2 separate regions of the Homo sapiens genome follow, and region 2 is linked to region 1. The links come from fine-mapping of genetic effects on gene expression. Tissue or cell type: whole blood. Region 1 holds a variant in brackets; the other region holds the start of a gene. All regions are shown on one strand. Distances are between the middles of the regions.

What was found. PIP is the estimated chance that this variant, and not a neighbour inherited with it, causes the effect.
Region 2: TMEM120A starts here. The variant in region 1 is fine-mapped to the expression of TMEM120A in whole blood (TOPMed, PIP 0.94).

The regions. Positions count from the first base shown.
Region 1 is chr7:76,218,906-76,227,006 of GRCh38, forward strand. The region is part of intron 1 of SRRM3 (serine/arginine repetitive matrix 3); the gene reads left to right. Among named protein-coding and RNA genes, the nearest start is that of SRRM3, 21 kb to the left of the region's middle. RefSeq lists enhancers at 3,885-4,385, 5,724-6,228 and a silencer at 6,573-6,773. The variant C/G (reference allele first, on the strand shown) is at 4,363.
Region 2 is chr7:75,991,209-75,999,309 of GRCh38, forward strand. It overlaps TMEM120A (transmembrane protein 120A), which reads right to left and starts at 3,387. Exons shown (of 12, transcript NM_031925.3): 1 at 3,282-3,387; 2 at 1,231-1,349; 3 at 936-1,052. The coding sequence starts at 3,362. It overlaps STYXL1 (serine/threonine/tyrosine interacting like 1), which reads right to left. Exons shown (of 9, transcript NM_001317785.2): 9 at 5,134-5,391. The coding sequence ends at 5,260. RefSeq lists silencers at 1-117, 3,109-3,168, 3,179-3,628 and an enhancer at 868-927.

The DNA of each region.
Region 1 (8,101 bases):
GTGCAGCGGCGTGATCTTGGCTCATTGCCACTTCTGCCTCCCAGGTTCAAGCAATTCTCCTGCCTCAGCCTCCCAAGTAGCTGGGATTACAGGCACCAGCCACCATGCCTGGCTAATTTTTGTATTTTTAGTAGAGATGGCCATGTTGGCTAGGCTGGTCTTGAACTCCTGGCCTCAAGTGATCCACCTGCCTCAGCCTCCCAAAGTGTTGGGATTACAGGCGTGAGCCACCATACCCGGCCTGTATTGCTTTCAGTAGCCAGTGTTGCTTGTTCTGATACCTTCCAGCTGTCTGTCATGCTGGTGTGCAGTGTCCCCACTGTCCTCTGTTGATCAGTCGGTCTGAGCTCCTGGCTTGGCTGGGTCTGTCCCATTTACAAGGCTCTGTATGACCTGTCCTGGGCTACATCAATCTGCACTGATCTCACCTGAGCATTGTTACCTGTTCTCACCTGGGCTGCATTACCTGTACTGTGGACTCCTCTGGAGGCAGCAGACAGTGGAGGCCTCCTTGTCCCTCCTTGTCCCTTGTCAGTGATGCTCCAGCCCCCAGCCGGCTTTCTCTTTGATCTCAGCCAGCCCAGCAGAAGCCTGAGGGGATGCCCTGGGCAGCCTGCTTGGTTGCCACCCAAATCTTTGCTCCAGGAACCCAAATCAGAGCCAACAAAGACAGGAGCCTTGACCAGAGAAGTCCTTCCTATCTATTCAAAGACAGGGCTGGGGCCGGGTGCGGTGGCTCACACCTGTCATCTCAGCACTCTGGGAAGCCAAGGTGGGTGGATCACTTGAGGTCAGGAGTTTGAGACCAGCCTGGCCAACATAGTGAAACCCCGTCTCTACTAAAAGTACAAAAAATTAGCCAGGCATGGTGGCACACGCCTGTAATCCCAGCTACTTGGGTGGCTAAGGCATGAGAATGGCTGGAACCCAGGAGGTGGAGGTTGCAGTGAGCCGAGATCACACCACTGCACTCCAGCCTGGACAACACAGCGAGATACTGTCTCAAAAACAAACAAACAAACAAACAAAGACAAGGCTGGACTCGAGGGCTTACAAAGTAGATGACCATGAGGCCCATGCAAATGTCAGCATGCACATAGTCTAGGCATAGTGAGAGCAGTGACCAAGGACCTCTCCCTCTGTAGTTCCCAGAGATGATGGTGGTAAAACAATAAGTAGTGAGCTCCCATCGGTGCAAACACAGGCGGGGTCTCAGCAAACAGTCCCAGGTGGCTGCTCTGTGCCAAGCCCTGTGCTGAGCACTAGGGATACAGATGTGGATTGGCCCAGTCTCTGCCCTTGGACAGCCCTCAGTCAGCCAAGGAGCAACAGTCATGCTAGATTGCGAGTAGTAGCCACAGGGTGACAGCAGAGGCACGTCCCCCAGGGAGTCCTTCCAGGCAGTCAGGGAAGGCTTCACGGAGGAGGTGATGCTTGAGCAGTCTTGCAGGAAGGGTAGATGAGGAAGAACCTTCCAGGCATGAGGAACAGCATGGGTCAGTGCATTCTTGGGTGGAGTGGAATGTGGTGTGGAGCTGGACAGGGATAGCGTAGGACTGGGCACATTGCCAGCTAAGCCACCAGGGCTTTCTCCTGTGGTCTGCAGGCTCGCCCTCTCTGCCTCACCGGCCCCGGACACCCCATCTTGGCCCTGGAAACTTTGCCAGCCCAGCCACCTCCATTGCCCAGCACAGACTGAGACGGCAGGGAAAGGGTCAGCCCGAGTCCTGCCCAGGCATGGCTGGACCCAGCCCTAGACTGAAAAGGGGAGGGCAGAAGAGGGACCACAAGGGCTATGGTCAAAACACAGAGCTGCAGTGCCCGCACCCTTGCAAGCCAGGCTGCCTGCCCCTCCAGGAACCAGCCCTCCCACCCCCAGCCAGCCCCAGCCTTGGGGCTCTGGCCAAGATTTTCCTCCAGCTCCAGCAGGGGCAGCAGGAAGCTCCAGCTGCTGAATTATTGAAAGCAAGGCTTTCAGCAGTTCCCCTCCCCCCACCGCGTCTTCTGGAGGGTTGGGTAACAAACAGCCGTGCCAGCACCAGCGCCTCTCCAGAGAGACTCCAAGGAGTCATGGAGGAAGCTCACTGGGCTCTGCCCGCTCCCTGAGCCACCTCCTCCCAGGCCTCTCCCTGCAGTGTCTTCTTACCCGTCTTTTTTTTTTTTTTTTTTCCAGACAAGGTCTCACTTTGTTGCCCAGGCTGGAGTGCAGTGGCGCAATCTCAGTTCACCGCAACCTCCGCCTCCTGGGTACAAGCGATTCTCCTGCCTCAGCCTCCCAAGTAGCTGGGTTCACAGGTGCCCGCCACCACACCCAGTTAATTTTTGTATTTTTAGTAAAAGAGTTTTGCCATGTTGGCCAGGCTGGTCTCGAACTCCTGACCTCAGGTGATCCACCCGCCTCAGCCTCCCAAATTGCTGGGATTACAGGTTTGAGCCACTGGGCCTGCCCTCCTCTTTTTTTTTTTTTTTTTTTTTGAGACGGAGTCTCGCTCTGTCGCCCAGGCTGGAGTGCAGTGGCATGATCTCAGCTCACTGCAAGCTCTGCCTCCCAGGTTCACACCATTCTCCTGCCTCAGCCTCCCTACTAGCTGGGACTACAGGCGCCCACCACCACGCCCAGCTAATTTTTCATATTTTTAGTAGAGACGGGGTTTCACCGTATTAGCCAGAATGGTCTCGATTTCCTGACCTTGTGATCCACCCGCCTCGGCCCCCCAAAGTGCTGGGATTACAGGCGTGAGCCACCGCGCCCCGCACCTGCCCTCTTCTTACCCGTCTCTACTGGTCTCTACTGGTCTGTGTGGGTTTGTATCTGTGAAAAGTACCATGATTGGGCTATGAGTGTTTGTAATGATTTAAAATGGTAATTATTGACCTGATCTGTTCTGATTTATATGGATCTATATTTCCTCCTGGTCTAACTCATGCCTGTAATGGTTTAGACTGATTGGCATAGTTCATGGCTGATAACAGCTAACACTTAATGCATAGAGCTTATCGCCTACCCAGGCACTGTACACACGTTATTCCTTTACTCCTTACCCTGAGGTGCGGGTACTTATATTAACCCCATTTTACAGATAAGAAAGAGGTTAAGTCACTACGCACACATAGTAAGTGATTTGAACCCATCTGCTACTGGCTGATCGGCACGGGTCTGTCTTGGTTCATGTGGACTGGGTTATCAGTTATCCTTTAAGGGCCTGAGGGCATCAGGTTGCAAGAGAGAGTTGAGCACAGTGGCTCACACCTGCAATCCCAGAGCTTTGGGAGGCCAAGGCAGGAGGGTTGCTTGAGTCCAGGAGTTAGAGACAAACTAGTGAGACCCTGTCTCTACAAAACTTCTAAAAACTAGCTGGACATGGTTGTATGCACCTGTGTGTAGTAGTGGCCAGCTACTTGGGAGGCTGAGGTGGGAGGATCACTTGAGCCCAAGAGGTAGAGGCTGCAGTGAGCCATAATTGTACCACTACACTCCAGCCTGGGTGATAGGAGACCCCGTCTCAAAAAAAAAAAAAAAAAAAAGTTGCAAGAGAGATCTTTCCAAAATGCAAATCTGACCTCCCCAGCTCAATACCCTTCACTGGCTCCCTATTGCCTGCAGGGTGTGGTCCTAGGTCCTCAGCCTGAGTCTGAAGGCCCTGGGGACCTGGCCCTCCCTCCCCTCCTGGCTTAGTGGGCTCAGCAAGACAAGCCCATGTTTTGTTTTGTTTTTTTAATTTTTTTAATTTTTTGAGATGGAGTCTCCCTCTGTCTCTCAGGCTGGAGTGCAGTGGCGTGATCTTGACTCACTGAAACCTCTGCCTCCTGGGTTCAAGCAATCCTCCTGCCTCAGCCTCCCAAGTAGCTGGGATTACAGGCACCCGCCACCATGCCTGGCTAATTTTTGTATTTTTAGTGGAGACAGGCCAGGCTGACCAGGCTGGTCTCGAACTCCTGACCTCCAATGATTCTCCTGGCTCAGCCTCCCAAAGTGCTGGAATTACAGGATTGAGCCACCGCGCCCAGCTTCAAGTCCATGCTTTTCCCTCTTTCCTCTCCATGCCTTCTTCCTGCTCACCCCCACACCCTGACCAGGACATCCTTCTCCTCCTCCTTTGTCCCGCCAACTCCTACTTATGCTTCAAGATCTCTCCTCCAGGGAGACCTCCTAGCTATGCTCCTCTCCTGACGCACCCCAGCTGTTAGATGTCTCTGCCATGCATCCATCATCCCCAGCATGATAAGCACCAGTGCTTCTCCTTCTGCATTTCTCTCGTGTCCTCTGGTGAACCCCAGAGTAGCCACTCACAAATAGCTGTGACCTGAATGAATGACCCAACCCTGAAGTTGATGGGGTGTCTCTTGGTCCTCTGGTCCTTA[C/G]CCCCCCAGCCCCACGCTCTTGGGCAGTGAGCACAGGGGAAGCTTTCAATATAAAGTGTTCAAGGCTGGAGGTCTGCAGAAGGGTCCTTACACAGGGAAGGGAAGGGTCAGCAGGAGAGTGCTCCAGGGAATATGTCCCTGTCATGGCTGCACCTGGCTTCAATGCCAGGATTTGGAGTGGGGACACACCTAGATTCCTTGGACATGATGCAGATGGCTTTTCTTTTCCAGCTTGATAAAGTATCTTGACAAACGATTGTTGCACACACTTATTTTTAACAAGACCCAGAATGAGTTTCACAACTTAAGGACCTGGTTTCATGGGTATTTATCAGTTCTGTCTCGTTTCTGACAGTTGGAAAGAATCTTTTTCCTCAGGAGGCACATCCTTGCCCACCTGCTGTCACCACACTGGGCTTTTTCTCTGGAAGGTCTCATCCTGCGTTTGCAGCCACCACCTTCACAGGAATGCAGTTTCCTGGATCATAAATTCCATTCCACTGTAGCCCTCTTAGCCAAGGGTCCCTGGATCTTAACATGCCCTTGGCTTTTGCCTTCCCTTCCCTTCCCTTCCCTTCCCTTCCCTTCCCTTCCCTTCCCTTCCCTTCCCTTCCCTTCCCTTCCCTCCCCACCCCTTCCCTCCCCTCCCCCAACTTGCCCCCCTCCCCCTCTCCCTTCTCTTCCCTTCCCTCTTTTTTTTTTGACAGAGCATCCCCTCCCCTCCCCCCAATTCCCCCTCCCCTGCCCCCACTTCCCCTCTCCCCTGCCCCCACTTCCCCTCTCTCCCTCTCCCTTCTCTTCCCTTCCCTCTTTTTTTTTTTTTTTTTTTTTGAGACAGAGTCTTGGTCTGTCCCCCAGGATGGAGTGCAGTGACACGATCACAGCTCACTGCAAGCTCCGCTCCTGGGTTCAAGCGATTCCCCTGCCACAGCCTCCTGAGTAGCTGGGAGTACAGGCGCACACTGCCAGTCCTGGCTAATTTTTTGTATTTTAGTAGAGACCGGGTTTCACCATGTTGCCCAGGCTGGTCTCAAACTCCTGAGCTCAGGCAATCTGCCCACCTTGGCCTCCCAAAATGCTAGGATTACAGGCATGAGCCACCGCGCCCGGCCAAAGACACATCTTTCAAAGGCACATGTCTAACATCATTCTCTTCATGAAACCTTCCCTGACCATCCTAGGCAAAGGTAGAGCCTCCCTGGTCTCTTTTTTGCTCCTGCAGGACTGGGTGGGTGGGTGGGAGAATGGCATCAGAATCTCTTCATAACAAGCCTGTTACCGCAAGAAAGGATGAATGAATGATCCCACTAAGCTACAAGCTACAAGACTAGGGAATATTGTCTCCGTCGAGGTATTGCTCCTCACAAGAGGGTATTAGCTACGAGGGTCTGCCCACAGACCCTGACCCAAATGATGAATAAAACGTACACTGATACACAGAGATTCTGTTTTGCCAGTCCTGCTGAGTGACCGCCTACACACCAAGAGAGGTTTGTCACTGTGGCCGCCCCGATCAGCTAGGGAGACTCACATTTATTCATTAAGATTAGTTAACAAAAGCTTGAGTCAGCGCCATTAGAGGTAATTGACATTGAGGACTTCCCGAGTAAAAAGCACACATCAAAGGCTCGTCTTGAGACCACATGAGTAAACAAGTTAACTAGATAACTTCCCCACATCCCGTTATTTACTACTCTAATCTATTTAACTGAAGGTAATGGGACCAGCCCACCTTCGCCCCGGTCTATTACCGAAGTCATGTGAAAACCCTCAGGCCTTCCGAAAGGGTTTTGTGGCTATCATAACTAATATTTTTTCCACCAGCCTGACCGAATCCCAACACTCCATTTTACAGATGAGGAAACTGAGGCTCGGAGAAGTTTAATGACTTTTCCTGATCACCCAGGCAGAAGTAGTGGAGCCAGAATTTAAGCTAAAGTCTTCTGACTCCAAGTCCTTGTCCTGGTCTAACACTCTTTTTCCTGGCCCCAGTAGAAGACAGCAGAAAGATCTTAGAAGTAAGAAGGTGGTTAAATTGTGTGACCACAGACGAAGTGCTCAAGTGCTTACTTGAAGCTGTGGGAATCTGTACCTTTGAGCGTGTGGAGGCTCTGAGTCCTGACATTACCTCTGGGGAGGCATGCCTCTGGCTGGCAAGGCCAGGAAAAAAAAGCCCCTAGAGGAACGGTGCTGCCCCCCTCCCCGCCCCCCCCGCCCCTTTCCCCGGCAAAAGAGGCTTCTCAGCCCCGGCAGCAAATGGGGCCCCCTGAACTGGTGATGGGGGTGCTGTCCGTGGTGCTGGAGGACTGCGACGCTGCCAGAGACAAGGGGAGCAGGGAGGAGTTTGCTCACTCCTGTAATCCCAGTGCTCTGGGAAGCCAAGGCGGGGGATCACTTGAGGCCAAGAGTTTGAGACCAGCCTGGGCAACAACGTGAGACCCTGTCTCTACAATAATAATAATAATAATTAATCTCCAGTGCCTTTTACGAGACATTCATTGCATACTAGGTACTGTGAGGGCATTTCCCATGCATTAGTCCTTTACAACAAACCTATGAGGAAGATGCTATTATTAAATAGTTTCATTTTACAGGCAAGGAAACTGAGACCCAGAGAGTTGAAGTCACGTGCCCTAGGTCTCTCAGCTTATGAATTCCCAAAGATCACTCTCCTGTCTCCCTCTCAAATCAGGGGTCCCCAGGGCAGGGCTGGGCCTCTTCCCAGACTCATCTGTGGTCCACTTCTCACTACAGCCCATTCCCTCTCCCCCAGACCTGACCAGGTCACTACGATCTGAGCATCTTCTCCCTCTGAGCCCCAGGGTGAGTGCTGACCTCATTAGCTAAGAGGCCTCTGTGCCTGTCAGCAGCTGACTTTCCGAAACAGGCTGGACCCTGCAGTACAGATGAGCTGTTTCACCTTCAATTAATCACTTGCAGGTAGCAGCATCCAGTTTGTGGCCCACTGTGTCCACACCCAGGCTTGCTCAGGAAACCCAGGCTTGGGCTTGTGGGAGGGAGGCAACTCCAGGGACCCAGCCAGGAGGCTGGGAAATCAGGCCTCTAGGCTTTTAACCACTTCCTGGCTTGTAGAAGAAGGAGTGTGCCCCTTTGGCAAGCATTAAACTAGGGCTTCATGACTTAATCTACACATGGGTTTGGCTGGCTCCAGCATCTGGGCTTGCCCTTGGGAGCTGACCCAGTGCTGGGGACAGCCTCAGTTGAACTCTAAGGGTGGCCGGTGGGGCCCCGGCTCCTGGCTGTATCAGCAGAAAGGAAGTGGGCTGAAGGTCTGGTGTTATTTATTTATTTATTTATTTATTTATTTATTTTATTTTTTGAGATGGAGTTTTGCTCTTGTTCCTCAGGCTGGAGTACAACGGTGTGATCTCAGCTCACTGCAACCTCCGCCTCCTGAGTTCAAGCAATTCTTCTGCCTCAGCCTCCCAAGTAGCTGGGATTACAGGCATGTGCCACCACACCCAGCTCATTTTTGTATTTTTAGTAGAGACAGGATTTCACCATGTTGGTCAAGCTGGTCTCAAACTCCTGGCCTCAGGTGATCCACCTGCTTCGGCCTCCCAAAGTGCTGAGATTACAGGCATAAGCCACCACACCCAGCCTGGTGCCACACACTTAGAGTTAGTATTACCCAGACTTCCAGAGTAGGAAAGGACCCTTGGGGTCTTTGAGTCATTGTTCAGTGGGAGAAACAAGGGTGCAGAGAGGGGAAGGGACT
Region 2 (8,101 bases), 230 kb before region 1:
CTTTCCAGGTGCACATTCCACCGCCCCCGCCCGCCTACTGGGCTCAAGGCAAGAGCTGCAGCCCAGCAAAGCCTCTGATCTCTTGGCTGCCTCTCACCTCCCGCCCCGACCTCTGGCCACTACAAGTTCTCATGGCCCGTCCACCTGCTGCTACCTCTCGCCCTCAGCCCATGTGTCTGCCTCATTTTTTTTATTTATTTACTTATTTATTTTTTAAGACAGAGTCTCACTCTGTTGCCCAGGCTACAGTCCGGTGGTGCGATCTCAGCTCACTGCAGCCTCCGCCTCCCGGGTTCAAGTGATTCTCCTGTCTCAGCCTCCCAAGTAGCTGGGATTACAGGTGCATGCCACAATGCCCGGCTAATTTTTGTATTTTTAGTAGAGATGGGTTTTACCATGTTGCCCAGGCGGGTCTTGAACTCCCGACCTCAAGCGATCTGCCTTGGCTTCCCAAAAAAGTGCTGGGATTACAGGCATGAGCCACCGCGCCCAGCCTATTTGTTCTTTTTAAATAAATAGAGACATAGGGTCTCAGTATGTCACCCAGGCTGGTCTTGAACTCCTGAGTTCAAGTGATCCTCCCACCTCCATCTCCCAGAGTGCTGAGATTACAGGTGAGAGCCACCACGCCCGGCCCACTCTTTATTCTGTAAGACTCAGCCCACCCATCCCCTAATCCAGGAAGCCTTCTGCGACCTCCTGGACTGGGTCAGGTGTCCCTCACTGTGCCACCTCATTCCCCATGCTACAAAGCACCTATCACAGTGAAATGTCACTCTCAGCCAGGTGTCTCCCCTGAAGTCAGCACTGTGCCTCATTGCTCAGCCTGTACTGGGCCCAGGGAACATTTGCTGACTATAATGACCAAGAGGAGGCAGCACCCGGCTTCAGGAGTGGCTGTGAACTGAGCTGGGGGTGGCGGTGGGGGCCCTCACCCATTCTTCTTAGGCAAATAGGCCTCCATGTCAAAGAAGAGGCCTTGGCGCTCTTTCATCTGGTTCTCCAGCTCCTGTGCGGCCCCCTCGGCCTCTGCTGGGAGGGAGGGTTTGCATCTGCGGGTAAGGCCAGAAACAGTCAGGGCAAGAGGACTCCCAAGTGTCCTCCCTGACTCCCACAGGGGCAGAAGGGCAAACAGGGCCCAGAGAGGGGAGGGGCGGTGCCCAGGGTCTCACAGCGCCAGCCCTCCCACCCCACACTCTGCCCATGGCGGGTGGGGTAGGGGATCCTAACTTCTTCAGGGCGAGGGCCAGCTCCTGGAGCCGCTTCTTCTGCCGCGTGATGGAGCTGGTGCAATTGTTCTGAAGTTTGGTCAGCTCCTCCAGCTTCAGGCGGTAGAGCCGATGGGTCTCCTGGGGGCCGGAGGGGAGAGGCTCAGGCCAGTTGGGGAGCTACTGAGCCAGAGCCTGCAGGCAGGACGTGGCGCTCAGGCTCCCCCAGGGCTGCTGGGAGGGTTTCGCTCAGCGGGAAAGGAGGTAGAACTGTGCCTGCCCAGGGATGAGGTGGCTGTCTCCCCAAGGCAGGCAAGGACCTGGGTGTCCTCCTGTGAGCCCAGAGACCCCCACAGCACCCCTCCTCCAAAAACAGACTAGGTGTTTTTGTTTTTGTTTTTGTTTTGAGACAGTCTTGTTCTGTTGCCCAGGCTGAAGTGCAATGGCAGGATCTCAGCTCACTCCAACCTCCGCCTCCCGGGTTCAAACCATTCTTCTGCCTCAGCCTCCCAAGTAGCTAGGATTACAGGCACCTGCCATCATGCCTGGCTAATTTTTGTATTTTTGTAGAGACAGGGTTTCACCATGTTGGCCAGGCTGGTCTTGAACTCCTGACCTCAGGTGATCTGCCTGCCTCGGCCTCCCAAAGTGCTGGGATTACAGGCATAAGCCACCGCACCCAGCCAAGGTTTTCTTAGTCTCAGCCCATCTGCTAGTTGTCCCCACCCTACAAGGACAGACTCTTTCTCCTACCTTGAGTCTGGAGCTTAGGCCCCCAGGGCCACCTCCTGGACCAAGCAGGCAGCCCAGAGCCACCCCTCTATCCTCTCAGCTCCTCCTGCCTATCTAGCCTTCCAGTACAGGAGGAGCTCAGGTTCTCAGGAATCCCTGACATCTTCTTCCCAGGTTAAAGGTCATCAGGTTTCAACCCTAGAGCCTCCTGCTCTAAGGCCAGCCCCACTCCCTTCCCCTAGCACCTTTGGCCCAAGGATTCCCCAAGCACTTTGCCCTGGTAGGTGAGTCTCAAGAAGGCGCAGCCTAGAGATGGGGCAAGGGGCAGTGTGAGGAGAGCCAAGCAGGGGCTGTGGCCAGGACAGCGGCGGCCAGGCGGGGAGACTGGGTCTGCTCAGTCTCTGGGGAGAAGCACCAATGGCAGGGGCCTTGGCAGGGCCAGGGGCAGCTGGGTTTCAATGCCCACAGGAAGCAGTTGGAACCAGTCCAGGAGAGGCCAAGGGCTAACCAAGCCATCAGCTGGCCAGGGCTCTACTCTGTCTGGATCTTGTTTCTCATGCCCAGGAGGGGTCACCACGCCCCCTCGGACCCCAGCACGTGCCACTTCTGCCCACCCACAGCCACCGCCCTCTTCCCTGCCTGGATGAGGCCAACAGCCTCCTCCTCCCTGGCCTCTGGACAGAACAGCCACGGTGGCCCTGGGGAGCTCAGTCCAGACAATTCCTCCCGTAGCTTTCCACTGGCCTCGGAGGGACTCTGATCTCTGCCAGGCCAGAGCGTCCCTGCAGGGCCTAGCCCCGCCCACCCCTCCCACCCGTCCCACCCCTCCCCTGGTTCTCCTTGATGCAGCCACATGGGCCTGTCAAGTCCCCTCTTTCCTTCCAAAGGCCTCGGCGGCGCGCGGTATCCCTCTGCCTGGGGCGTCCCCCATCCAGGCCGAGGACACCCCCCTAAACGCTGCTCCCCCGACCTGGGCTGCCTCTCGGGCGCTGCCCGCTGCGCGTTTGCTGAGTGGCTGACCCAAGGCTGGGCCCGCCCGTGTGTGACTCAGGCGGCCGCTCTCTTCTGGGAAGGGACGGGGTCGGGGTCTGGGCCCCTTTCCAAGGCCCTCATTGGAAGCCGAGGTCGCCCAGCGCGATGGGGTCCCGCCGGGGTTCCCGGACACTGGAGGTGGTGGCAGTGGACACCAGGACCAGGGGCCTCGCCCCCCTTGGCAGTGACGCCAGGGCCCCGACCCCTGACCCTTAGCTCCCCACTGCCTGACCCAGGGCTGCCCGACCCTTGACCCTGAGCCAGCGAGACGCGGCTCGGGGGCGACCCGGCGTCCGCAGCGGCGCTAACCTGGATGTTCTGGAAGTCCTGCTGTAGATCCTCCCAGTCCCGCAGGCAGTCGCCCAGCGGGCCCGGGGGCGGGGGCTGCATGGCTGCAGCGCCAGTAGCCAGTAGTGGAGGACGGCGCAGCAACCCCGGCCCACCCGAGGCTCCTCCGCCACCGCCCCCGTCCGCTTCCGGGCTCGCGCCGCCACGGGCACCAATGGGGAAAGGCCACGCCCCCCACCCCAGCCAATCCGGGACAGGGGCGGGGTATGGGCGGGGCCGTATGCAAGGGCGGTTGCTAGCCCCGGGACTCGCGGCCTGGACCGGGACTGGGACGGCTGCAGCCCCCGGGCCTGGACTGCACTGACTGTGCCAGCCGCGTGGTGCAGCCAGCAGGGCTCTGGCCCGTCATGCTGAGAGCAAACCAAGGTGCAGGGAGGTGACACCTGCTTGCAACATTTTCGTCCTTGGGAAGCTGAGCCTCTTTGGGGAAGGGAGTTAGAGCTGCTTCTCTCGCTTGGATTTTTACAGCGGCCTCCTTTCTCCCTGCCTCACCTCCACTGTCCCTTCTCGCGGCCACCGGACTGCCCTTCCCAAAACACAAGGCTGATTCCCCATCATGTTCATGCTTAAAACTTTCCAGCGGCTGTGTCCTGCCTACCAGGAGGTCCCTAATCGGAGCTCTGCAGCCATCCCGGGCTCTGTCCCAACTCACACCCTGAGGAAAGCCAGGGCTGTGTGTAAAGCCGTTCCCCCTCTGGCAAAACCCCACTCCTCCTTGAAGGCCTGCCCTTCTGTTGAGGGGAATCCCCCACCCCCTCCCACCCCCATCCCTCCACAGAGCGCGCTAAGTGGTGGGACGGCATTCATCTCTCTGTTCCCAGCCCCACCCACGCGGTGGCAGGGAATGGTTGCCGAATGGACTTGGGGAAGGTCCTGCATGGATGGACATCCTAATCCCCTACCAGTCCCCTAGTCTGTGCCGTCTCCTGATGCCCAGTTTGTTCTGTGGGTGCTGCCAGCTTTGGAGAAGTGCATTTGGAAAACAACTTCCAACTGGGTGCCGTGGCCCACACCTGTAATCCCAGCATTTTGGGGAGGCCGAGGCTGGAGGATCACTTGAGCCCAGAAGTTCGAGACCAGCCTAGGCAACAGAGCAAGACCCTGTTTCTACAAAAATAAAAATAAATTAGCCAGGTGTGATGGTGCATGCCTGCATTCCCAGCTACTCACTCAGGAGGTTGAGGTGGGAGGATCGCTTGAGCCCAGGGAAGTTGAGGCTGCAGTGAGCCATGATTGCGCCACTGCACTCCAGCCTGAGAGACACAGCAAGACCGTGCCTCCAAAAAAAAGGAAAGGGGGTAAAAAAAAGGAAAACTTTTAAGACCTTAGGAATTTCTAGAAACGTGGATAGGGAGATGGGGGAGGGGGTGAGAATCTCTCCTTGGTGAACACAGCCAGGCAGAAATGAGTGGGGAGCAGGGAAAGAAAATCTGTTTCAAGGGGTGGATGGCAGGAAGCGCTGGGGATGAGGCAAGGGTGTGATCCCATTCTAGGAGCCTGGGGGCTAGACAAGGCTGGGCTTGGTATCTCTGGGACTAGGGGACTGCCTATTGGTGGCTATTGTGACATCCTCTGTGAACCAACACAGGCAACCTCTGGGTACCCCCAGGCAGCCTCCAAAGGGTCTAAGTCACCAGGGGGATGCAGGGCAGCTGCTCTAGCAGCCAGATGCTCTTCCAGAGGCAGCCTCAGGGGTGCAGTTGGGATGGCCCGCGACACCTCAGGGATGCGGGTTCTTGGTGAACCTGAGCAGGGCGCATCAGCTAGGTGGCGTGAACAGGCACTTGGGAAGAATCAGTACAGGAGGCTAACATGAGACTTTCAGGCAGCAAAGGCCTTCTCCTTCCAGACAAGCCTGGGTATACACACTCTGGCCCTCCACCCACAAAATGCCCCCAGGTGAGGCTCTTCAGTACCCTTCGGTGGGCCTCGGAGAAGATCAGTAGAGCGGATCCATGATGTTTGTGATGGAATCTCCAAGGATAGTCTTCTCCCATTCCAGCAGCTGGCTCACCAATCCCCGATTTGGACACATGTTGTTTTTGCACTTCTTGACATAGGCCCAGGACCTCTATGAATACAAAGAGAGAAAGTGAACTTCACGATTGGTCCTGGGCCCTTTCCACTTGGATCAGAGGCAGCTTTCAGAGACAGGAGGCACTTGCACAGTGCCAGCAACACGGCTTAAGGGCTGGATGCAGAAACAGGGCAGCCTGGCATGAATGCATCAGTGCTGGGAGTCATGGGAGCTGACTCTGCCTTGGGCAAGCCCCTCTGCTTCTAAATCTGGTGACAGAAATAATTCCTATTTCAAACAGCTTCTGGGAAGATTAAGACAATATACATGAAACCACCTGTGGATGGCAAACACTATGCCAAGCCTAGTGCAGTCTCAACAAAGGTTTGCATTGTGACTGGACAAATTAATGGAAAGAGGAAGAGAACTGTGGGCAAATTCTCTGAAGAAGAAAATTCAAGCTGCCCTCCTTCAGGCATCCACCTTAAAGTACAGGAAGTGTTGCTGCATGAAGGAGGGTGAGCACCTGGTCTCCATCTGGATTGAGGACAAACGAAAAAGGGAAAGGCAAGAGTGGTGCCTAAAACTAGGAACAGAAGGAAATGGCCAGGCACAGTGGCTCATGCCTGTAATCCTGGCACTTTGGGGGGCCGAGACGGGTGGATCACCTGAGGTCAGGAGTTCGAGACTAGCCTGGCCAATGTGGCGAAACCCTGTCTCTACTAAAAAAATGCAAAAATTAGCCAAGTATGGTGGCACATGCCTGTAATCCCAGCTACTTGGGTGGCTGAGGCAGGAAAATTGCTTGAACCTGGGAGGCGGAGGTTGCAGTGAGCCGAGATTGCACCACTGCACTCCAGCCTGGGTGACAGAGCAAGACTCTGTCTCAAAAACAAAAAAGGAAGGAAGTGATGTCAACCTGATAAAGGCCATATATGAGAAGCCCACAGCTAACATCACACTCAATGGCGAAAGATAAAGTTTTTCCTCTAAGATCGGGAACAAGGCAAGGGTGCTTGCTTTCATCACTTCTGTTCAACATAGTCCTAGAAGTCCTAGCCAGAACAATGAGGCAAGAAAAAGAAATAAAAGGCATCTACAATGGATAGGAAGAAGTAACCTTACCTCTGGTTTGAAGATGACATGATTTCATATGTAGAAAACCCTAAAGATTACACACACACACAACACACACACACAGCTAATAAATTCAGCAAGGATGCAGGATACAAAACCAACATGCAAAAATTAGTTGCATGTCTATATACTAAACAATTCAAAAAGGAAATTAAGAAAACAATTCCATTTACAGTAGCATCAAAAAGAATAAAATATTTAACCAAGGAGGCAAAAGACTTGTACACTGAAAACTCCAAAACAGTGCTGAAAGAAATTAAAGGTACAAACAAATGAAAAGACATCCTGTGTTCATGGGTTGGAAAGCTTAATATTATTAAGATGCCAATACAACTCAAAGTAATCCACAGGTTTAAGGCAATCCCTATCAAAATCCCAACAACATTTTTTGTAGAAATAGAAAAATCCATCCTAAAATTCATATGGAATCTCAAAGGACCCCATAAAAAATATTTAAGAAGAACAAAGTTGTAGGTCTCACACTTCCTGATTTCAAACCTTAGTCTAACAAAACTACAGTAATCAAAACAGTATGGTATGGACATGAAGACAAAGAGACTAGTGGAATAGAATAGCCAGCCTAGCCTAGAAATAAACCCTTACCTATATGGTCAAGCAATTTTTTTTTTTTTTGAGACTGAGTCTCACTCTGTTGCCCAGGCTGGAGTGCAATTGTGCAATCTCAGCTTACTGCAACCTCCGCCTCCTGGGTTCAAGTGATCCTTGTGCCTCAGCCTCCCAAGTAACTGGGATTACAGGCATGTGCCACCACGCCTGGCTCATTTTTGTATTTTTAGCAGAGACGAGGTTTTGCCATGTCAGCCAGGCTGGTCTCAAACTCCTGACCTCAGGTGATCTGCCCACCTCTGCCTCCCAACCTGCTGGGATTACAGGTGTGAGCCACTGCACCGGGCCTGTCAAGGAATTTTTGATAGTATGCCAAGACCATTCGATGGGGGAAAAGGACAGTCATTTCAACAAATGGTGCTAGGAAAACTAGATACGCCATGCAAAGAATGAAATTGAAAACAGGAAATCAATAGAGAAAATCAAAAAAACCAAAAGCCGGTTCTTTGAAAAGATCAATAAAATCGATACACCGCTAGCCAGGCTAACTTAAACAGAAGACACAAATTACTAATACAGAAGTGAAAGAGAAGACATTGCTACAGATCCCACAGACATTAAAAGGATAATAGAAGAATATTCATATCCACAAATGTGATTGATCAATTCCTTGAAAGACACAGACTGCCAAAACTCACACAAGAAGAAACAGACAATCTGAATAGGCCTACATATATTAAAGAAATTGAGTGGTGGCAGATGCCTGTAGTCCCAGTTACTCGGGAGGCTGAGGCAGAAGAATGGCATGAGCCCGGGAGGCAGAGCTTGCAGTGAGTCGAGATTGTGCTACTGTACTCCAGCCTGGGTGACAGAGCGAGACTCCGTCTCAAAAAAAAATAAATAAATAAAATAACAATAATAAATTGAATCAATAATTAGTAACCTTCCAAAACAGAAAGCACCCAGCCTAGATGGGTTTATTGGTGAATTCCACACATATAATGGAATATTATTCAGCCTTAAAAGGAAGGAACTTATATAAGGTACCTAGAGTAGTCAA